2 separate regions of the Homo sapiens genome follow, and region 2 is linked to region 1. Evidence: fine-mapped expression QTL. A gene starts in region 1. The other region holds a variant in brackets. All regions are shown on one strand. Distances are between the middles of the regions. Region 1 holds the start of LINC01933 (long intergenic non-protein coding RNA 1933). Region 2 overlaps G3BP1 (G3BP stress granule assembly factor 1).

What was found.
Region 2: its variant is fine-mapped to the expression of LINC01933 in prefrontal cortex (CommonMind, PIP 0.95).

The regions. Positions count from the first base shown.
Region 1 is chr5:151,953,332-151,965,921 of GRCh38, forward strand. It overlaps LINC01933 (long intergenic non-protein coding RNA 1933), which reads left to right and starts at 5,567. Exons shown (of 3, transcript NR_109876.1): 1 at 5,567-5,623.
Region 2 is chr5:151,800,242-151,812,425 of GRCh38, forward strand. It overlaps G3BP1 (G3BP stress granule assembly factor 1), which reads left to right. Exons shown (of 12, transcript NM_005754.3): 10 at 1-105; 11 at 519-628; 12 at 3,644-12,184. The coding sequence ends at 3,850. Among named protein-coding and RNA genes, the nearest start is that of G3BP1, 34 kb to the left of the region's middle. The variant A/AT (reference allele first, on the strand shown) is at 4,144.

The sequences.
Region 1 (12,590 bases):
TGGTTGCAAAATGGTGATTTTTCTAACTCTTTTGTTCTTTCCAGGCCTTTTGTTTTTCAGGCCATCTTTGATTTCCTCTTCTATCCTAATCTTTTTTTCTTTTTTAACAGAACCTAGGAACATTCAAATGTGGACATGAATGGGGGTTACCAAATTTAGTTTGTGGATTGGAGCTGGACTGGCTACATAAAAATCAATGTGATCTTCATAGATGTACAGATTTCAGGATTCCACTCCTGTGGATTCTGACTCAAGAGGTGGGGAGAAAGAATAGGAAGGATTCTTTGTTTTTAAATCAAGTTGCTAAAATGTAGCCAGGCCAAAAGAGGGGGAGTTTTAAAATCCACCATCTAATATTGCAAGAGATGAAGTTTGCTACCACACTTGCATGTCCTTTCTGAATAGGACATAGGTTGGGGACAGGAGGGGTGAGAGGAACTGAAATGAATGGGGAATGTCCCATGGATATTGTGGCCTCCATACTGCCCCTTACTTGGAATTTGTAGCTACACTTTCTTTGGTTGATCCTGGTCTCCCTCATTGCATGAACCTCAGAAGCTTCAAATTGTAACAGTGTATGATTCCTTTGTACCTCTTTCCAGTCTAGATCTAATTACTACAAGCTGTTGGGACTTCAGCATGATGACAGAGGATTTTCTAGGATTATGCTCAACATGTGACATTCAATTACTGTGCCTCAGGAGGGTGGAGGTTAGCTAGGCAGGGAACTGGTAAGGATGGATGGGATTTCCAGATATGGATGTCAAGGGGCTCAATTTCTGGGGACGCTAGAGTCATGCTGCCTAAACTTTAGTGCCAGCTTGTTAAAAAGAAAATGCTGGAATCACAAATCTGACCATAGGTTTCAGTATGTCTAGGAAAGAACCCAGGAGTTAGCATTTTTAACAACCTCAGTATTTAAAAGGATTAAATAAAGACTGCTCTGGTGGAAACAGGCATGGATTTAGTCCATTCAGCATAACCGCTTGCTTCTCTCATCAGACTTTGGGATGTCTGCCTCCTGACATCCATGCACAGCCCCAGGCTTTCATAAAACCACTTTGAAAACCACTGGGCGGGGTGATGGCTGAAGTTTCTTCCCACTCTGACATTCAGTGATTCTGGGTTTGATCATGTGGAAGGGCCATGATAGTGCTCTCATCCTCGCCAATACTGCCACATGACTCAGGCCCGGCCAGCAGAACTCTCCCTCCCCTCATTCACAGTGAAAGGTTCAGAGGAGAGCTTGTAGCCCAGTTCAAGCTTGAGTCTCCTCTAAGAGGAGTAAGAGCCTCTTCTCTTACTATCTCAGTGTTGTAAGAGAGAGGATCTTGCTTGTCTTCTCAGATGAACATGAACACAGACCCAAATGCTAGGTAGCTCTCTTCTAATGAACTTACAGGAGTGAGAATGCTGTAAGGCACCTCATCCTGCTGAGAAGAAATCTAACTTAAATGCATGTCTGCTGATGGGGTGAGGGGGTGGGGTGGAGCTTTTCACATTCCTACTTTGAACAATGCATGGTGCTGGGTGTTATGGAGTAAGGTAGACACAACTCCTTCTTCAAGGAACTTATTTATTTGGGGAGATTCTGACATATGAAAAATCAATGAATTAACAATATATGGCAGTATGGAGTGCAAAATTGATGCCATAAACAGAGAAGAGACTTTTGAGGAATACACTCATAAAGCTTGAAGAATGGATTGAATTTATTATTACTGTTCATAAAAAGGGATATATCATACATATATATACATATGCACACATAGTTGTTTATTAGAAAACACAGGTGCTGTGTCTTTTACAGAGATTTAATTCACATAGTATAAGAGGAAATCTATTAGGGCACATCACTGAGAATTTCAGGGATCATTCCAGCTTTAGTCATGGCTGGATCCTGAAGATCAATGTCATTAGGGCTCTCTCTTCACTTCCTGGCTCTGTTTTCTGATCTGTCTTGCCTTCATTCTAAGAAAGGATTTCTCCATATACTGGAAGCAGCATAATAAATCTCCCAATAATTCTTGGCTAATTATGGTCTTTTTAGCTTAACATCCCAGAGGACAAGCAAGCTCCTCTTCCTTACAATGCTCAGATAGTAAGTCTTAGAGGAGACGCAAGCTCCTCTGGGCCATGAGCTCTCCTCTGAACCATTCACTGTGCACGAGGGGAGGGAGGGCTCTGCTGGCCTAGCCTGAGTCATGTGGCAGTATTGGTGGGGATGAGAGCACTATCATCGCCCTGCCACAACTGTTTGGGTGGAATGGATTGTTCCTCAAAGGACAAGTAGGAGGCAGGCATGCAAATTCAATAGCTTTCTTCCCAAAACATGGAAATAAGAAAGAACAAAAATCACAGGTAATCTAACACAGAGGAGGTGCACACACACACACACACACACACACTCATAACACACACATACACACTTGTGTGTATCCAGAAAGATGTTCATGCTACTTTAAGTGAAAAACTATAATAGAAACAGTTTATACAACAATATCTCATTAAAACTTTTAGTGCATTTATTTTATTTGAATTTGCATAAATATGTGTGTTGAAAATATGAAACTGAAATGTACTATTTATTGTATAGAGTTTTCCCCTTGACAATCATGAACATAATTCCTTGTCATTAAATAACATCCTATGCTACTCTTCTCAGGCCTGTGTTGTGTTAGGTGGTTGTAGAGTGATTTGGCTGATACCTGGATTCATTTAGGAAAGCTGGGCAGCATTACTAGAGCAGGCGTTGGGATCTGCTGTCCCTGCTTACTGGTACTTTAGGTCAGAGGATGTCTATCTGGCATCTCCTTTCTGGGTCCTTTCCAAGTCTATCTGGCATCTCCTTTTCGGGTCCTTTCCAAAGGGACCCAGCCACTCAGTCCCAAGCAAGCTTCGGGAGTTGAGTGGGACCTTTAAGCAGGAGTGTATCGTCTACTTTTGAAATAGGAATCTCAAGGCCCAGGCATTTATATATAGCCTTTGTTTCAGCAGCCCCATGTGTAGCTGGCATTTCTGGGGTCAAGGCAGAAAAGATCAGGGACAAGTAAAAGCTGCAGGAATTTATTGAAGGAAAGTAGGTTGTTTCAAAGCTGAGGTTTGGATTTGGGCTTGATAGTAAACTAGCATGACTCCAGAGAAGCTGCGTGCACACCAAGGCTGCTGTTGTCTCATCTCCCTGGTGGAACTGTTGCAGATGAAGCACCTGCAGATGACATGGACGAGGGGAGGGAAGCACATTCAGGCTGAGATGATTGCCTTTGCAGTGGCCTCACTGACAGCGCTGCAGCTCCAGTGGAAGGTCTCTCGGGCACTTTGTTGGCCTAGTGGAGGGCACAGTTTTGGTGAGTCCCCCTGCTTCACTTCTGGGGAAGACTGACCTATTCACTAAGACGCTCTACCCAACACACACAGTGAGGCACTTAGAGAAACTGGGGTGCTTCTTCTCAACCTCAGAGTAGTGCCTTCCAAACTAAAAAAATGTAAAGAAGAGAAGAAAAAATAATAGGTAGGAGGTGGGTCCCTTTCTTTAAAGGAAATTGTACTTGGGTAGAAGAACACAGGGTTGCTGGTAAAGGCCCTGTGGGTAAGTCTACCTGGGTGTGACTCCTGCTCCACTTCCTGCTGGATGGCTTTGAACAAGCGACTTAACCTTTCTCACCCTCAGTTTCCTCATCTCTATAATGGGAAAAAGACTAACAGCTACCTCACAGTCTCTTGGGAGTATTAAGTACGATGATGCACATTAAAAATACTCACATATAACCTGGTATTAAGTGCTCAATAAATGTTAGCTGACACTATTAACAGATTTTAGGGAAAAACACAGACTTGCCTTGATTGGAGCAGAGGTAAGAATCCTGCCTTTTCTTGTCACTGTCACATTTTTGGAGTCTTAGGGATCTAAGGAGTTTGAAAGTTACTTTGTAGAACATTGTATATTATACACATATAGTTACACATGGAAAGAGGAACAAGCCATACTAGCATGTCATATTAGAAATTGTAGCTTGGGCAACATAATGAGAGCCTGACTGTACAAAGAAAAAAATAAAAAAAAATTAGCTGGATGTGGTGGCACATGCTTGTAGTCCCAGCTACTCAGGAAGCTGAGGTGGGAGGATCGCTGGAGCCTGGAAGGTTGAGGCTGCAGTGAGCTGTGATCAACCACTATGCTTTGGCCTGGGTGACAGAGTGAGACCCTGTCGAAAAAAATAAATAAAAGTGCACTAAACTGGAACTATGAGTCCTGCATTCTAGTCTTGATTCTGTAATAAACTCACTTCAAGGCTTTGAGTCACTTCACTTCTCTGGGCCTCAGTTTTCCCATTTCAAAAATGGACTGTTAGGTAGCTGGTCTTTAGACTATATCCTGGTGAACTGAGGTTTCAGAGAGGTGCTGGTGATTGCTAGGGGATTGGAGGAGATTATAGGATTACACTAATTATAACCAGCTTTGCTAGCTGCTTTCTGAGGGTTCTTGCATCTCTTGTATAGTACAACACGAGACTAGGAATCCAAGAGGCAATTCTGCTTTCTTATCATAGCATTGTTATGATGGTGGCTTGTATAATCTCATTTTAAAGATGAACCACATCAGACTCAAAGGGCTCAAGCAGTAGGCCCAAAGACCAGTAGCTGGTGCCAAGCCTTGATATGTATTCTGGAAAAACACTCCTATTCCAGTGCTCATTTCACCCCATTGCTTTACCTTTTGTAACTCCTGGACACTGCATTTTATAAAATGGAGCTGACACAGGCTGGGTGAATTCAGTCTTCCTGATAAGCCACCCATCTTAAAATAACACCATCTCACTGTGCTCACATCTCAGATACATTTGTCACAAAAGGAGGGCAGATAGACATCCAGCCTTCATTTGACCTTTAAATCACCTCCTTTTTATCAGCTGTGGCTGATCAGCTGCTCTTTTTGAGAGCAGGTGGGTCGACATAAGATTGATTGGTTTTCTCTGCAGGGGAGTAACTTGGCCCTTTCCAACCCTCTGACCTGCAGAGGCCCTCTGAGCTCTGAGATCCTCGGCAAGAAACAAGAACATAGATTAACAAGGCAGAATGAGGGGCCTCTGTGCCTGGATGCAGGACAAGAAGAGAATAACCAGTGAGAACTCGGAAAGAAGACCAGCCCTTGGGACTTGCACAAGTCCTTTAGTTTATCCTGTCCCCAAATCCTAGGGTGTTTGTGACAATCAAATAAGAAGTTACGTAAGTAGATAGAAACTTGTCAGCCCAGTATGGGCCAATGCAGGAAGTTTTGGACTTGGAAGACATTGTGTTGTGGGGGAAAAAGTGTGAGCTTTGGATCCAGTACCAAAGATGGGTTTGAATCTCAGCCCTGTCCCCACCCAAAGCTCATCTGGAATTGTAGCTCCCACAATTCCCACATGTTGTGGGAGGGACCCGGTGGGAGGTAATTGAATCATGGGGCGTGTCTTTTCTGTGCTGTTCTCGTGATAGTGAATAAGTCTCATGAGATCTGATGGTTTTATAAGGGGGAGTTTTCCTGCACAAGATCTCTCTTTGCCTTCTGCCAGCAGCGTAAGATGTAACTTGCTCCTCACCTTCCACCGTGATTGTGAGGCCTCCCCAGCCATGTGGAACTGTGAGTCCATTAAACCTCTTTCCTGCATAAATTACCCAGTCTTGGGTATGTCTTTCTTAGCAGCGTGAAAACGGACTAATACACCTGGCACTGACAGGAAAAAAAAAGGTTAAGACAGTTGTGAACCCTTGAGCAGGTCACTAAACTCCTCTGTGGCTCAGTTTCTTCATCCGGAAAAAGGAAATTATAATGCTGAACGTGTAGGATTATCATTAAGTGTTAGGGTAATCAACTTGCCTGGAGCGTATCTCATAGTCAGTGCTTAAAATGGTAGTTTTTGTTACTGACATGGAAATGATTGATAAAACAAAGGCCTCAGGGCTTATAAGGAGCAGTGATTATTTTATTGGTGAACAGGATGTTCTATTCCTGTTGGACCAACTGATAACAGTCACTTCATGAAGAAAAAAGGATTTCGAGTGGGATAGAACACTGGAGTTTTCTTTGGTGGTTTTGTCTGGTGGGATCTATTTAATTGCATTCTGCTTAGAACCAACTAATTGTTGAACAATTCAGCTGATCACACACTAGCTAAGAAGGCCATGTGTGAAAAATATCTAGAGAGGTCCTAGCTATTTGGGAGCAAGTCCATCATAAGCCAATATGTGACCCGGCTGCTGATACAGATGAGCCGCTCTTGGAGTGCATTAACAGAAGTAGCAAGCCTAGAATAAGGGAGGAGATGGTCCTTCTGCATTCTCTTCTGGCTGGGATACACTTGGAAATATGGGTTCAGTTCTCTAAGAATCTCATTGTCAAACCTGAGTGTGTTCTGAAGAATGTGAGTAAGAGAGGAAGGAGCTGAAGACCTTGCCATATGGAGAACAAGGAAAAGGATGAGAGAGGCTTTTCCCCTGGAGGTAAGAATGTTCACGGTGATCAATGACTTTAAACTTCTGAAGGGCTGCCATAGGGAAGGAGGAGATGATGGAACACACTGTGGGTGAGTGGAGGTGGGGTCAGAGTCTATCAAGCTTGCCCAACCTGCCTTATTTTTATTGTTGTTCTGTTTTGTTTTGTTTTAGACTTTTAGCAGCCTGAAAGCCATGGTTTTTAGTTTCTGTCTCTAGTGATAAGTGAAAAAGAGGGATGAGGGAGGGGTTTTGGTGGCCTAACCAGAATCAGAAACTAAGAACCCATAATTGTATTTTCTCCCTTGGACACCCCTGGAGGTCTTTTGGACAAAGTTACAAGGAGGAATATTCAATTCGGGAAGATGCTGAATTGGGCCACCTTGTGAGGTAGTAAATCTCCTGGCAGCTGAGATATTCAACCAGAGGCTAGCCAAAGTAAAGCAGTATGTGGTGTGGAGGTTGTGGGAACAGGATTTGATGTTAAATCTGGGTTTAAATACTGGCTGTGCTGTGTGGGCAAGAAGTAAACATCTCTGGATGTACTTGCCTTAGCGGTGAAATGGAGACAGAGCTTACACTACTGGATTGTGAGGGTTAAATGAGATAATATACGTAAAATCCTTAACAGTTGCTCTTAGTATTATTTTGGTTACTTATCAAGGATAAACTCACCAGGGTTTCCTTCCCACTCTACATTTCGGGGATGCTATGAATGAAACAGGCCACTGCATTTCTCCTTGATTGTTCTTTGTTCTCCACTTCAAACCAATTGCCGTTTCATTGCATTTTGTTAATAATATAATTCTAGAGAAAGCTGGCCTGCCATGACTGTTTTTTAGTGTTTCTTCCTCATTAATTTAGATCTTCTCCAGCTGATGAACATTTTTGCTTAGTAGAAGTTCATTAATTCTCCCCTCCCCGACTCATTCCAGCAATGCAATTTAAACAGCATTAATCCGGTATTTAGTGAGAAAATGGAGTTTTATACTAAGAAACATTCAGTTTGAGACAATCTTTTTTTCTTCTTAAACAACTTTTTTTGAAATCCTAATTTAATGACGAATTATCATCATTTGTGTTGGAAGAAGGTTTAAGAAGAGAGAGAATAATGGATGAGGGTTATGAAATTTTAGAGCCAGACGAACTCTCATCTGGCCTCTTGTTTTATACATGAGGACATGGGTCCCAGAAAGGTTGACTTATGGGCTCCAGGCCACTGAAGAGTGAATGGCAGAGCTGGGTTGTGAACCTCTTCTTGCCGTCCAAGCTACCTTCTGTCTGCTGGGGGGTGGCAGGCTTGGGTCATGTTCTCCCACTGTCTAGTTTGAGCTTGGCAAGTTTTTCAGCTGCAGTGAAGCTCAATTTTTTGATCTGTAAACTGCCCATGTAGTGATAGTTCCTCCCTTGTCAGTATTAGGGGTAGGTTAATGTAAGTAAAGCAATTACAAAATTGCTGGCACCTGGTAGGCATAGCGAGACTGTCGAATGAAGAGACAATAATTTAAGGTCATTACTGTTTATAGTTATAATTTACCTGAGTGCTTCTCATATGCTGGGCCTTTGCTGAGCTCTTCCAAACCACCCTTTGGATAATGGTTTGAAAGGGCTCTGGCTAGGATATCCACCCTATGAGGTATTAGAATGGTGCAAAAGTAACTGCTGTTTCTTCCATTACTTTCAATGGCAAAGGGCACAATTACTTTTGCACCAACTTAATAGAAAGTCTAACAAGTTTCTACTGTTATGAGAACTCTGGAACTTTTATTTCCCCATTCCTGTCTTGTTTGTTGCCCCCCAAACCTCAACCATTTCCTACAGGAATTAACAATGAAACCCTTAAAATGGAAAGTTCTCAGGGAACTGTTTTAGAACAGTGGAGTAGGCAGTTCCTGGGGAGATGCCTGTTATTCCACAGTGAGGGGTGAAGATAACTCACAGTATGGGGTGGGACTCGGCAGCTGTGAGAAGCCAGGGGAAGCGGGTGAATCACTGTGGGTACAGGAGGAGGAGTTTGACTAATCATACCTTATACCAGTGGTTCTCCACTGGAGACAGTTTTGTCCCCCAGGAGACATTTGACAATGTCTGAAGACATTTTTGGTTGTCATGGGGGATGGGTGATAGGTGAGTGTGATATTGCTGTCTGGTGGGTAGAGACCAGGGATACTGCCACACTCCCTAAAATGCACAGACCAGCCCCCAACAACAAAGAACTGTGGCCCAAAATGTCAACAGTGCTGAGGTTGAGATACCCTGCCTTACACACATCCTATGATTTGGTCTTTATGAAAAAGTATGAAGTATGAGGAAGGGAGCCGGTATTTAATAAGGGTAATAGGATCTCTTCTGTGCCAGGCATTACATTGGGCTGGAGTTGGGAAGACAGATTTTAACTGCCTGATAACTTGATCAGTGGGTAGGAGCCTCTTGGATCACTCTATTGACAAGGATTCTGACGCACAGCAGGAAAGAAGGCTGCAATCAATGGACTCCAGTGCTGGCACTTTTCAGCTGTGTAACCTTGAGCAGTTACTTAACCTTTCTGTGCCTCAGTTTTCATGTCTGTAAAATGCTGATGATAGGAGTATCTACCTTATTGAGTTGCCATGAGGATCAAATTAATTAATAATTTAAAGAGCTTTTTGAACTATGCCTGCCGTGCAGTTAGTTATCTTCATCCTCATTATCAGGAACAAAACAATCTTGCTGCGTATTTACCATCCTTGTTTTGTCAAATTATACACAAAGTCTCATATAAGTAGATATATTAGATATGTATAATTTAACATGTGTAATTTGCCCCATTTTTAGGATGAGGAAATTTTGTTTAAAATTGGGTAAGAGGACAGAGAACTGATCGAGAATGTTAAACTAGTGGGTGAGCTTTTATAGAGAGTGTTGTCCTAGTTCATGAAGTATTTCTTCAACCAGCTTTATCCCTTGCCTAACCCTGAAATGTGTATATCGACCCTTGGGGGCTGGTCTTCATTGCAAATTTGTATTGTTCAGTTTTTTCTTGAGCTGTGTTCTTGTTAGGCAATAAAGATTGCTTTGGCACTTTCTAATATGACCTGCCCATGGGACTTTCAGAAAAAGATAGGTGTGGAGTCAGACCAGGGGCTTACATACAGGCAATCCCCATATGGTAAGTTTTGTTTGTCTCTCACAATTTTTTGAAGTTTGAATTTGTGGCCAATGTTTATAAATCAAAACATAGCACATAAAAATGTAAGGTTCCAGTATTTCTGAAAATGAGAATATCTGGTTACATTGGACCCACATTAAAACATGGCAAAAATTGGCTGGGGTAGCCACTCTCCTCCCTTCAGATGCTGAACTTGCTAGTTTGCCCCACTCCCCACCCTGCCTCATTGCATTCTCAGTACTGAGGCTGAGCGGTAGCTGCCGTCTGTTCACTCACACTTGGCCTGCTTCACTTGTTCCTATTTCCTGTCTGCCCTGCAAGCACCAAGGGTTTGCAACTGCTTGCACAGAGCTGATTATGCTATCTCGTTACATTCAAAGCGCTTTCACACATGCTGACCTTCTGCTACCTGTGAAGAAGTCAGGGCAGGGATTATTGTGTCCACTTTCTAGATGTGAAAGTAGAGACTCAAAATTAAGCAATTTGCCCAGGATCCCACAGCAATTTTAATGCTGAGTTAGGATTAGAGTAGCTTGACGGCTCCTGAAGCTTTGGAATTGGTTTGTAACAGACTGTAAGAACTTGGAAACACGGTTTTATTCCAGGGTCCTCTAGTCTCACAGTTGTAAAAAGGAAGACTGTAGTTTCAAGACTTTGTGGATTTCTAAAATTTCTAAAAAATTGAGAGAACCCGACACATGTTGTCAACTTTGTTGTCAATTTTCATTTTGCCAGGTAAGAATATTAAATTCAAGATAGAAAGCTAATCATCACTATAATTTTATAAAATAAAGGATATGTTATAACTATAAAAGAAGGAAAAACTTAATCTCAGAATAAAGGATGGCCTATCTCAGGAAAAGTGTGCATACATTTGTATGCGTACATAGAAATATTATTAAACATTTCCTTTATTTTTTTTATGTCAACTTGGCACATCCAGGAAGTAGTACTTGGGGAATCACAGGATTGGGAAATCTTTAAGATTATTTTCAGCGTACTCATTCTAGATATTTTTGTTTGTTTTTGTTTCAATGTAACAGTTTTGTGACCCAGTCTCCAAACAAATCAGAATGCTGACAGGTGTCATGTAGGTCATTTGGGCACATGCCTTTCTGGTCTCCATTCTGCTCCTGCTTCCAGATCACCTGGCTTGGATAAGAGAAAACCAAATTACCTAGTCTTTGTGAAAAAATTATTTAGGCATTGGGAGTTAATTCCTGGCTCCAAGTGGAGCCTCCACCAAGTAAATCCATGCCAATGGCTCTCCACATAGGTGATGCCAAAGAAGCTGGATATATGGGGCCTGCGTTATCTCAGAAAGCACCAACTCTCCGAAAACTCTCTTGGAGAAATGGAGAAAGATAGAATGCAAACTAGAGGTCGGGAGATAAGTGGTTGAGTTCCAATTTTTCTAGGATTTTTTGTGTAACCTTGGACAAGCTATCTCCCCTCTCTGTGCCTGAATTTCCTTCTCTCTAATGCAAAGAGAGTAGATTAGATGATATTTAAGTTCCCTCCTACTTCTGACATGCTCCAATTCAACCTAATTCAATTCACAAAATCAAAATATAAGCAGGGAAGGCCCTGAAAGGTCATCTAGTAGGAGCACCTTTTTGTCGCCTGCTCTATTCAATTAAATGCAAATGAAAGGTACCCAGCCATAAGCTTCAAGGAACACCAGACTGTCCCTTTCATCCGTGAGAGCGGTGCTGTGATCTGAGAGAGGCAGGGCAGCTGAGCCGTGGAATAACCTGACTGCAGTTTTGCTGGGGTAGGAAATGGCCTCATTGTTTCATCTGAGTCCAACTTTGATCCTGGGCCTAGTGGCTCTCACAATAAGGGAGAGCCTTTTGCTATTGTATTTTTTATGACTCCAGTCCATCTTTCTATTTTCAGCTAGGAGCAAATTATGACAACCCCTGTGGGTGTATTTCCCTGCTAAAATTTTTCCTTTGGAATGTCTAGGGATAAGGGGTGCAAAGAGGGGTGTATGGACTCACAGGTTCTTAGCCTGTTAGGGGTGGGGACACACACAGAACCGATGCAGTTTGAAGCTTGACTCCTTCCAGGTGCTTTCCTATCCAATGTTGTTGTAGCCTGTGTTTGCATACTTACTGTGATGGGGCCCTCCACTACCTAAAGGAAGCACTTATACTTTGGCCTCTGTTGAGTGATGGTCTTTTTACTGAGTTGAAATCTCTTTCCTCTGCTTTTTACTCATTGTTTCTGGCCCTGCCCTCTGCAGCCGCTCAGAAGAATTTTGTTTCCTTCTCACTTGTTAAGTCAGCCCTGCATCTTTTCTCTTAGTTAAGCATTCTCTTCACCCTCAGCCATTTATCTCTCTTTTTTTTTTTTTTTTTTGAGATGGAGTCTTGCTCTGTTACCCAGGCTGGAGTGCAGTGGCGCGATCTCGGCTCACTGCAAGCTCCGCCTCCTGGGTTCACGCCATTCTCCTGCCTCAGCCTCCTGAGTAGCTGGGACTACTGGCGCCCGCCACCACGCCCGGCTAATTTTTTTTGTATTTTTAGTAGAGACGGGGTTTCAACGTGTTAGCCAGGATGGTCTCGATCTCCGGACCTTGTGATCCGCCCGCCTCGGCCTCCCAAAGTGCTGGGATTACAGGCATGAGCCATCGCGCCCGGCCAGCCATTTCTCTTATAATTTCCAGACCTCTCACCATCTAGATTATTATCCTTGGGCTTCATCCTAACTTATTCATTCATTTACTTATTCAACAAATATTTATATAGTACCTACCATGTGCCAGGCTTTGTGCTGCATACTGGTGATGGGGTGTTAAGCAAGACCTGATTCCTGGCCTCTGAGTACTATGGAGAAAACATTCATTGAGTAAATAATTCTGAAGCCCCACTTGGTGAGTTTGAACTCCAGCCCCACCATTTACCTTTTGGAGCTGTTCGGTAAGTTGTTTGACTTTTGTGGCCCAGAGTTCCCCTATCTGCTG
Region 2 (12,184 bases), 150 kb before region 1:
ACATTGAACCCCGAAGAATGGTGAGACACCCTGACAGTCACCAACTCTTCATTGGCAACCTGCCTCATGAAGTGGACAAATCAGAGCTTAAAGATTTCTTTCAAAGTAGGTTATTGAGTTTTGAACACTAAATTCATCTAGTGTCTCTCTAGCACTGTCCAGTAGCAATAGAAAATGAGCCACATATGTAATTATAAATTTTCTAGTAGTCATGGTTAAAAAAAAAAAGGTAAAAAGAAACTGGATAATTTTAATAACATTTAACTTAAGGCATTGTCATTTCAACATGTAAGAATATTGTGAGAGATATTTTACACTTTTTCATAATCTTTGAAATCCAAATGTGCCTCCCATAATTTTACACTTATGAGAGGCACATCTCAATTCAGACTAGCTATATTTATAATTCAAGTGCTCAGTAGTCACATGCATCTAGTGGCTACTGTATTGGACTGTGTACATGTAATGTTTAAAGATAATGGTCTAAGTAGTTATCTGAGAATGTGTTTCACTTGCAGGTTATGGAAACGTGGTGGAGTTGCGCATTAACAGTGGTGGGAAATTACCCAATTTTGGTTTTGTTGTGTTTGATGATTCTGAGCCTGTTCAGAAAGTCCTTAGCAACAGGGTAAGCAGCTTTTTGTCTTGATTTTTTTTTTTTTTTTTTAAAAAGGGTTTTGGTTCTTTAGAATATATCTTTACAGCTGGGTCTTTATGTAAAGTGCAGTTTATTCCAACATGTTCAGGTAATTTATTCATTATTTTCAACCATTATTAAAAGACTTGCCTGGGGGTTTAGGAAAACAAACCTTATGTTTAAGTAACTTAGTTTTTGAAAACATGAATTATGAGAATGAGAAAATGAATAGTTATCAGTGCACTGAGATTTACGTAACTACCTTTCCTTGGTGGTGGCTTTTGGTATACAGGAGATGAAATACAAACCTACTTCTAACTATTAACTAAGATAAGAGCCAGTTTGCCCAGGACAGTTTTGGTATACTGCTGTTTTTAGAGAATAACTATTAAGAGCTTCTTCTTTAAGTTAATAAATTGGATTTGGAAGATAAATTATATAGTCAACCTACTTGGAACCATCCTTACTAACAGTACTCTTACTCTGTACGTTCTAATAATAGAAGAATTTGTAGAATGGAAATCTTACTGTGGGATCCCCAAAGAAAGCTTCCCTTCCTCTAGCAAAAAACTACTTTTTGTAGTAGTAGAGAAGAACAAGTGTATAAATAATATTAATTTACTAAGCTATACTTTTTTATTGAGGTGAAATTTACATAACAAAATTAACCATTTAAAAATGTACAACTTAATTGCATTTAGAACACATTATTGTGCAACCATTACCTTTAATTCCAAAAGTTTTTTACTAAAAGCCATAAGCTCTTTACTCACTAAGCAGTCATTCCTTGTACCTGTCTCCCAACCCCTGGCAGCCACTAATCTGCTTTCTGTCCCTATGAATTAAAATTGTGTACTTTAAACCATATAATAAAAATACTGCAGATCAGTGATATTCTCCAGAATGTTAATGGGCATACTGCAAAGTTTTTTATTTTTTTATTTTTTTTTTTTTGAGACAGTGTCTCTCTCTGCCACCCAGGCTGGAGTGCAATGGTGTGATCTTGGCTCACTGCAACCTCCACATCCTGGGTTCAAGCAGTTCTCCTGCCTCAACTTCCTGAGTAGCTGGGATTACAGGCACCCGCCACCATGCCCAGCTGATTTTTTTGTATTTTTAGTAGACATGGGGCTTCCCCATGTTAACCAGGCTGATCTCGAACTCCTGACCTCAGGTGATCCGCTGACCTTGGCCTCCCAAAGTGCTGGGATTATAGGTGCGAGCCAATGCACCTGGCCTTACTGCATAGTTTAATGTTGTGGTTATAACATGTCAACCTGAGTATGCAAATATACATTATCTTTCAAATTATTTGACCATTTATTTTTGTGAAGCATCTCCTGCAAAATACTGTTTGAGAAATGAGAGAACAGTGGTTTATCTCACCAAAGCCACTGAAGAACCCAGAAATGTCCAGTAGGCTTTGTAGATAAATCCATCATTCAGCATGTATTAGGCCTAGTGGCCACCCTTCATTTCATGGTATTGATAGAAGTCTACTATGCTCCCTTCACTAATTTTTTGTGTGAGCAGAAATAGCTTATGTAAGACTGATTGCCGTGGTGTATGACATACTGTAGTGTAGCTTACCGTTTCAAAGCTTATTTTTCCCTGGAGGCCTTGGTTTGTATTCTCCTTTCATCACTCATTAGTGTTGTGACCCATGGGACAAGTTACTTAACCTCCCCGGCCCTTAGTTTGCTAGTCCTTAAAGTAGGTATCTACCATCAGAGGGTTGTTGTAAAGGTTAAGTGAGCTAATAAATTTGAATAGAGCTGGGCACAGTGGCTCACGCCTGTAATCCCAGCACTTTGGGAGGCCGAGGCGGGCGGATCACGAGGTCAGGAGATTGAGACCATCCTGGCTAACACGGTGAAACCCCGTCTCTACTAAAAATACAAAAAATTAGCTGGGTGTGGTGGCGGACGCCTGTAGTCCCAGCTACTCGGGAGACTGAGGCAGGAGAATGGCGTGAATCTGGGAGGCGGAGCTTGCAGTGAGCCGAGATCGCGCCACTGCACTCCAGCCTGGGCAGCAGAGCGAGACTCCATCTCAAAAAATAAATAAATAAATAAATTTGAATAGAACACTTCCGCGACACATAGTAAGTACTCTTAGATACTCATTTTAAGAAATTAGAAAATTACATTGCTGGTGAAGAGCATAAATTGAATATATTGAAATGTTTCGTAGCCCCTTAACTACTTTGGCTCTGTTAGGAGGAAACGAAGGCCAAGACTATCCAAAATTCTCAGGAGGTGTTAAAGAGCAAATTAAAGTTTATGTCAAATTAATGAAGTTTTTATTTTAAATGTATATGTACTTTGCATAAATATGTACAGTACCATCTTTTCACACTGGTGATGATGAGGTTTTATTCTAAGCCTCCAAATCTATGGAGAAGGTGGCAATTTTTTTTATTTTTTATTTTTTATTGGGACGGAGTCTCACTCTGTCGCCCATGCTGGAGTGCAGTGGCACGACCTTGGCTCACCACAACTTCCGCCACCCGGGTTCAAGTTGCACTCCAGTCTGGGTGACGAGTGAAACTCTGTCTCATTAAAAAAACAAACAAAAAACTGAACTGTGAGAACTTAGCTGATTTATAATCTGCTGGTTCTTTTTTTTTTCTGAGTCGGAGTCTCGCTCTTTTTCCCAGACTGGAGTACAATGGCGTGATCTTGGCTCACTGCAACCTCCGCCTCCTGGGTTCAAGCAATTCTCCTGCCTCAGCCTCCTTGAATAGCTGGAACTACAGGCGTGTGTCACCATGTCTGGCTAATTTTTGTGTTTTTTTAGTAGAGACGGGGTTTCACCATGTTGGTCAGGCTGGTCTTGAACTCCTGACCTCGTAATCCACCCGTCTCGGCCTCCCAAAGTGCTGGGATTACAGGCATGAGTCACCGTGCCCAGCCTCTGCTGGTTCATTATTACAGCTTTCTTTATCTTTGATAGTGATAGCCAGCTCATCAGTACTCTTAAGTCTGGTCACCTTGATTCTTACAGCCCATCATGTTCAGAGGTGAGGTCCGTCTGAATGTCGAAGAGAAGAAGACTCGAGCTGCCAGGGAAGGCGACCGACGAGATAATCGCCTTCGGGGACCTGGAGGCCCTCGAGGTGGGCTGGGTGGTGGAATGAGAGGCCCTCCCCGTGGAGGCATGGTGCAGAAACCAGGATTTGGAGTGGGAAGGGGGCTTGCGCCACGGCAGTGAATCTTCATGGATCTTCATGCAGCCATACAAACCCTGGTTCCAACAGAATGGTGAATTTTCGACAGCCTTTGGTATCTTGGAGTATGACCCCAGTCTGTTATAAACTGCTTAAGTTTGTATAATTTTACTTTTTTTGTGTGTTAATGGTGTGTGCTCCCTCTCCCTCTCTTCCCTTTCCTGACCTTTAGTCTTTCACTTCCAATTTTGTGGAATGATATTTTAGGAATAACGGACTTTTAAAGAAGCAAAAAAAAAGACTGAATTTCCTTGCTTACTTTGCATATACAGACTGG[A/AT]TTTTTTTTTTTTTTTTACAGCCATTTCCCCAAAGGAATGTCTTGCATATTACTGACATTTGGTATGTTTCATTCATTGGAATATTTCTTATTTTCTACGTGTTTGAAAAGCCTGTAAGAAATACAGGATTTGATAATATTTTGAAGGCAGGAAAAACCCAAATTGTTTCTTCTTTGAGAGTCATGACTACCTTCTGGTGTGGAGAAATTGCCATTGGAAAATTTGACAATTTTGATTCTCACTGGTATGTTTAAAAACTGAATAAAAGGAATAGAATTTTTTTTTGATAAAGGATCACAAAACAATTCTAAAACCTAACTGTTTTTACCATTGAAATTTAAATTGTGATAATAGGTTTTAAATGTCTAGAATGCAACTGATAGGCTTTTCTTGAACTGTTAGTTTTTTTGAAGTAGTTTTTTCATGTTTAATTTGTATTTGTAAAAAAACAAAAAGCAAAAAAATTCCCAAAACCCAGATAACAACCAGAGCAAAACTGTTGTGCCTTCTATTTATCTTTGATTTCAGTCTTGGCAATTGTTTAAAAAAAAAATCTAGATTTGTTTTATTAGGTTCAGAGTATGTGGGGAATTATAGAATCCCTCTTTCATCACTTTGTGTATGTCTTTTGTTAACATATTTGTTATGCCTTATTCTAAAATTGAGTCTCAAACTGGAATGCCTTTGAAGACAGATGCTTCTATAGAGGTTCTTTGACCTAAATAGTTCAGCATTTGTATTTTTATTCTGGTATCTAATCAGATTCCTAATCATAGCCCGTAAGAAGGAATGTTACTTTAATATTGGACTTTGCTCATGTGCTCGTGTCCGCATTTTTTTTTTTCTTAAAATCATAGCCATATGGTAAATTTTCTATTTTGTTATGGTTCTCTTTTATTGATGGGCATGCAGTGGGTGTTACTTGGAAATGGCCAATTTTTATTAAAATATTTCTGGAAGAAAATTTAATCTGGCAATATAGACTAATACTCGTTTCACATATGTGTTATTTGTTGAGTGCTGTGTGTGAGATGGGTGAAGGTTTTGTTTACACGTGTGAAACAAACTTTTGTGTGATTGTCATTACTAATTGAAGGGCAACCAGGTTGTAAAATTCAGCGTATTTATTTTCTTAACAGTATTCATCTTTAGGACTGTCGTTTGAGGATAGCATAGGAATATTTGGTTTGCATTACTGAGAAACTCTAGGTTTGCTGTGATGGTTAAGACCACAGTGAAGTTGGTATTACCAGTTTGGTTCCAGTTCCTCAAATATTTGAAAATTGGCAGCATCTCCTTTACATAAACTTAATGTAACTGAATCACATGGCTTTTTTGTAGGGTTAAAGTAACTTTGGTAACCACTTTTGGCCCAGATCACTGATAATAGGAAGAAATACAACTTATACTTTTGTAGCTTATATTAAGCATGTGGTGGGTGGAAAGAAAAGTTTAGTCTGAGTCACTTTGGAAAAAAAAATTACTTTGTGGTAACTTCAAGGTCATAAATTATGGATAGCCTAGAAATTATCCTTCATGAGTGAATACTAAATTATACATTTCAAAACAGAAGTTCTTCCTACTTGGAGACTTAAGGGCATTAACTAGATGCAGCAATCCTCAGCTTGGTGTTATCACATACTAGAGGACATTTGGAAATGTGTGAAATTTGGAAGGGTTGTTGGAGAGACATGCATCTGGCATTTATTGGGTGGGGTCTAAGGATACCAAATGTTGTGTAAAAATGAAGCAACCCCATTGAGAACACTGATAGTCCCTATTCCTGTGGGTGGGTGGAGCTGTGGGATTAGGAAAACTGGAATGAAGACTCATTCTTTTGAAACTCAGCCTCAGATAAATAACAAACTAGGAAATGGAAATCTGTTTCAAGAATTGCAGTAACATCTACTCTAAGGAATTAGTAATTTCACTTTTTATTATTTGTACCAAATGTATGTGTGTGTTGTGTATGTTGGTGTAAATGTGGAGAGGTGGTAGCAATACATACTGATGCTGCTTGTAATTTGTTGCAGGGAATTACTGCACAATCTCAGAAAATAGAAAGCTTCCCCAGTGCTTTCTGTCATCAGAGTTGGGATGATTGTGAGGTTTTGAATGATAGTATTGGACCTAAGAAATAGGATTAGCATCATGATCAGAACTGTTGAGAATCCTTGTACAATTATGTACATTATTGCATGTAGAGTAAACCTGAGAGCTTAGAGATGTATACGTTTCCACTGCTGGAAAATCATTATAAGTTAGGGCAACATTTTCTATAGGTGGCAGCAGTAGGAGCTCATCACATTGAACATTTTCAGATTTTAAAATGAAAATTTTCATCCGTAGGAATGGCCCAATGTATAGTTATTAGCTACTGAGCTTAGAACTCTTGACCCATGAGATTTTTTTTTTAAATTTTTATTTTTATAGAGGCAAGGTCTTGCTATGTTGTCAGGCTGGTCTCAAGCTCCTGGCCTCATCAGTTCTCCTGCCTTCCAAGTAGCCGGAACTACAGGTGTGCACCATTGCACCTGGCCTCATGAGTATTTTAGTTAGATAAGATTTGTTTGGTTCAGTGGGTCTTAGTTTTTTAAGACCTGTTAATTTGTAATTAGACATCTTGGGCCTTAAACTGTATTTTTGTTTTAGTGGTGAGGTTGGGTTTTACTTTGTGTATTCCAGCGTTCTCAACTTTGTCAGATATTGCTAGGGACCAGTGAGATAGATAATCCAAAAATAATAATTTGACTTTGGTTGAGTATGTCATTACCACAGTGTTAGTTGAATTGCACTTTAGGTTAGAAAAGTTAATTTTCACATCTGTGCTGCGGGTTAGGTGATATTGTCCTCAGCACAATAGATGAGGAAGAAACTGAATCAGAACAGTTAAATGACAGGCTTCCAAGTCATCCATGTAGCAAGGAGCACATTTGCCTCCCAAACTGATGCTTTTTCTCTAGAACCATAATGCCCCCCTAATTACATTTCAGTAGCATAGACCGCAATGAACTTCCTACTGTAGGGAGACTTGAGTCTGGAATACATTCAGAACAAGGTTAACATTACAGTTCTTAATTTCCTTTAGGGCAAACAAGATAATTAAACTTGGGTTTTGTGAGTCTTTTTTTGATTTGCAGATTATATATGGTAACACAATAATGGTGGTTTGTTTTTAAGTTTTTTCTCATCAGGTTTGATAATTTAATGCAAACTTCAAATCTGGATGTGAATAATAATATTTTTATTATAGTATAATCCAGGTGAGTTTATAGAATTTGTGTTTTGTGCTTATAAACTGTCACCTTCTGATACTTTTCTTCATCCCTCTATTTGAAAAACCCTTGTAGAATTTAACGATTTAATGGAAAATGTTGCACTTTATAGAAGGCCATTTTAGAACTTACAGGTAACCTTTTTGAAGAGCTTAGATTTGTAGACCACTGTTTATGCTGAGTGACATTTCTTTTAAATGGTTGCATTTGTCAAATCTATAAAGATGTTTTTTATATTGCAGTTTTCTTTTTGTGCTACTTAAAGGAATCTTTGCAATGCTGCATATAGATAATTGTTGACCTTTTTAGTTCAGCAGTTTTTAAACTTGAAGTAACATCAGCATTTATTTGAATATCAGGTTTTAGCTAACTGCCTAATGTACCAAAAAAAAATTAGCAATGTCTTATGTGGGATGAGGGGTTAAGTTAAAGTTGCTGATCAAGTAATGGCCGTGTGGCACAAGATGATAACTAAGAATTTCTGGTTCTAAGGTAGTAATGCCTTTTGGGATTTATATTTGTTTAATGTTGAGATTCTGGGGACCATAGGTGGGCCTGTCAACTCTTAACAGACTATAGTAAAGGAGAGATGGTGGCACATGTGAGATAAAACTTGTTTATATTTACATTCTTATTAGTGGATAGATATCACCTCAGTACAACACTGAAATTAAACTGCCTTGTTCATGCTTTCATGTCTCAAATCAAGGCCTAAATGAGTAAAAAGATGATTACAGATTACCTAAAACCCTTAACCAGTTTTGGTTTTTGATTATGCATATGTGTTGGCTTGCAATTAGGTTTTTAGTTTCTGTTTATGTGACTTGTTTGAAAACATTGGATTCGTCTTCTCTCCACAGTTTCTACTTGAACCTAGTAGCTTATTTTAATTCCCTGTAAGAGGAAAATAATATAGGGAATCTGTTCAACTATTCCTTTAATAAATCATGTGACTTGGCCAATTACAGAAATTCCTAAGTGTAGTATTTTGAAATGTGGCCAGTGTCCCAGATTTGTAAGGTACAGTGTGCATACAGTGTGTCTTAGGATTTTTTTAAGTAAATTAAGGATGTTTACCAGAAATTATTGATTTACTGAACCAAGTATTTATTTTCAGAAGCCCACTTTTGGGGAAGGTTGCCTATATTTTTGATAGTAATTAGATGGAAGATTAAATCCTGTTTAACCTGGATAGAAACAGTTTTAACTATTGCTGAAGTTAAAATCACTTTGGGGTGGGGTGGGGTGGCTCATGCCTGTAATCCCAGTGCTGTGGGAGGCTGAGGCCAGAGGATTGCTCGAGGCCAGGAATTTGAGACCAGCTTGGGCAACATAGCAAGACCCTGTCTCTACAGATAATTGAAAAGTGAGCCAGATGTGGTGGCGCATTCCTATAGTCTCCGTCTCTCAGGAGGCTGAGGCAGGAGATTGCTTGAGCCCAGGAGTTGGAGGCTGCAGTGAGTTATGATCATACCACTGCACTCTAACCTGGGTGACAGAGTGAGACCCTGTCTCTAAAAAACAAAAAATTAGAAAACAACAAAAACCACTTCGGTTACTCACTGTCCTCATGCTTTGATGTCAGTTGTTCTCCTAAATTTTAAAATTTTGTTATGAAGATTGGATGTACACTGATTTGGCCCTTTAAATGACATTATACCAAGAAGTTGGTATAAGGGAGTAGGAGATGAGAAAACTTTTTGAAAAATCATTTGGTGCATGCTAAGGTAGCTTGTAGGACATGTGGTTTTAAAAAATTCATGGATTTTGAAGAAGGATAGGGTGGAAGTAAAATTTAGCTGATAGCATAGGGATCATTTGTGATTTATATAGAAAATAATTATATTTTTGAGTGAGAAGCATCAGACTTAAATTTTTTTCTTCTATTTTGGTTATTACCAAAAGGAACAGAGAAACTCTCAGAATTCTTTGAATCATAGAATGTTAGTGCTGGAAAGGACTAGGAAGTGACTTGTACAACCCCTTCATTTTACAAAGGATCAGAGAGAATTGGTTAGTAGAGTCCCAAATCTGCTTTTAGAAGTAATATGGTGATCATCAGTTTAGATTCACTGTAGGAAGGGCAGCCCTGTTAAAGTTTGTCAGGAGAAAAAGGGAAGGTATCACTTTTTGTATGTTCACCCAGTTGCTTCTGTAGTTTTCATACCCCTGTTTTCTCAATTTTCTTAGAACTGTCTTTAATGGCCCAGCTCTACCAGGGCTTGTTGTCTAAGGACATTAACTTGTGCTCCCCTCAGGGATGGGTTTACTACTAGCTGTCAGAAAGCTATTGGGTATCCTAATGTGTTAATAGCTGAAACTCAGCTGTAATTTCTCCTAAATACTTCAGCATTTTGCATTCTGTACATTGTGGTGCTTTTTCCACCTTGTATTGTTGTAACTGTAAGCTCCTAGGGGGCAGCAATTTGGTCTTAGGCGTGTACCCTGTTTAGTGCCTGGCAATGCCATGTTTATATCAAGGTCTTAATATTACTTTTGAGTTATTTCTCCCACTCTTCATGGAAGTGATGCTCCAGCCTTGCTAAAACACTGAGGGTCCTCCCGATAAGCCAGGCATTGTGATTCCTTGGCTTCAAGTGCCTTCTGTCTTCCCCGAAGGTCCACTGAGATCTACAATCCCCCCTTTCCTCTGATCTCTTGCCATGTAAGTAATTTTTTAAAAGATCAGTACAAGAGCTATATTTTTTCCTAAGAAAAAATTTCAACAGGAATGGGGAGTAGCCCCGTTTTGGGGCTGATCTGTCCAGAATTTGGAGTGAGGAACAAATCCATTCTCATCTACTTTCCACATTTTCCCTCTTGTTTGAGGTCCTGTTCCAACCTTCATTTCTGAAACTGTTCTAGAGCACTTTGTCTTTCTCGTAGTTCATAACTTACCCCTTCAGTCTAGAATTAGAATTACATTATCTGTTTTACTACTTTACTAGACTGTAAGCTCCTAGAAGATAAGGACTAGGGAGTTCATCTCTGTATTCCACCAGAAGGTACAGTGACTCATAACTAGAGTCTTTAGATGAAACTTACTGAGTTGAATAACTTAATATATTTCTGTTTTCATTCCCAAGGGAGGCCATGTCTGGAGATAGACCTTGAATTTAATAAATTTTAGGCACTATACCATTTCAGTGGAGAAAATTGTTGGGAAATTTGGGGGGATGGATATATAAGGGGGAGGAAGTCACTGGCCAGTTTGAGGTGCTTCCATTGGTCTGGGTAACTAGCCATTTCTTCCTGATTGTGCCTAGTATATCCCAGACAGTTTGTTTCTATGCAGAAGAATTTTATATGAAATTTTCATTTCTTTGCAAAAACTTGTTCCTTCTTTCAGTTCATGACATCATCCATGCTAAAGTCTGAGTCATCTGCTTCCATTTTTGTTATTCCCCACATCCAGTCTTCAGCTAAGTCCTGTCAGTTCTACCTCAAGTCTTTCCCGTCTTTCTTCCTCACCTATGTAATTTCAGTAGTCTCTCAGCTTCACTTAACCTCTTACTCCAGCCTACTTTATACACAATGTTAGATTCATCTTACTGAAACATAGTTCTGACCATGTATTCCATGTATGTGTTCTCTCTCCCCTATTAGACTGTAAGCTCCTTATGGGCAGGATCTGTGTCTGAGTCATCTTTGTATCTTGCCTAGCACCTATCAATAAATACTTCTTGAATGAACAAATGAATTCTCATTTCTCGACATAAAGCCTTGTCTAAAGTGAGATGTTTTCCAGGTCATACATAGGTTTCTCCCTGGGGTAATTGGAAGTTCTTGCATATAAAGTTGGTTAAATAGTAATAATTATGAGTTAACCACAGAAAATTTCAGAAAACTTTAATTTTTTTCCATTGGAATCAGCATGGATATGTGTATATGGATGGTTCAATAAATATACTTTTATATACATGTTTCACAGAAATTTTACATTCCATCTTCAAACTGCAGAAATAGATTTTTTTTTTTTACAAGCCAAAAAATAACTGCCATAACTTTTGTGACTTCATGCAAAAAAAGGGGGGAAGAGTAAGGGGCAAAAGGGAATTAGTTGTTCAAGGTTGAGTGTCCAGTAAGAAGTAAAAATGTTACATTAAGGAAGCGATTGCTTAACACGCTGCTTAAGGTGGTAGCCAGACAAATCCTTAACTGCAGCATTAAGGCCATACCAAGTTTATACATATATACAAAGAAATTTCCATATAAAAGACATACTATCACATTTTCTTCTTCATAAGGATGAGGAACTTTGTAATTCTGACCTGATTTTCCAGGCCAATTAATTAAAATGTCCCCAGGCTGCTTTTTAGAAGTATCTTCTACTTTGGCTAGCTGTCAGAGTTGCCGCTATGTGAGCTTGTGACTTCTGGTCTGGCGTGAAAGTATGAATCATCTTGAACCTCTTCCATCATAGCACTATGTTGCTGAGCTAATTCATGCTGCCCAGCTAAGCACATTTTCTACATCCCCAAAGTATTTGGAATCACAGCATTGTAACTTGTGATTGTCTTACCTGTAACAGACTCCACAGTCATGCTGGCATTGTGACCTGAAGAATTACACAGTGCCCTTCTTAGATTCTTTGGGGTTAAGGTAACTTCTTGAATAATGTACTAATGAACGATAGTGTTTCAGGAAACATGCCCTAGCTATTGGAAGTTCGTATCTAACTTTTACCCCTTGTGTGTCATGATACATTTAAGTTGGTAGCTACATTTTTGGAATAAAGGAAATGTAAAATTATTTGCAGAATAAT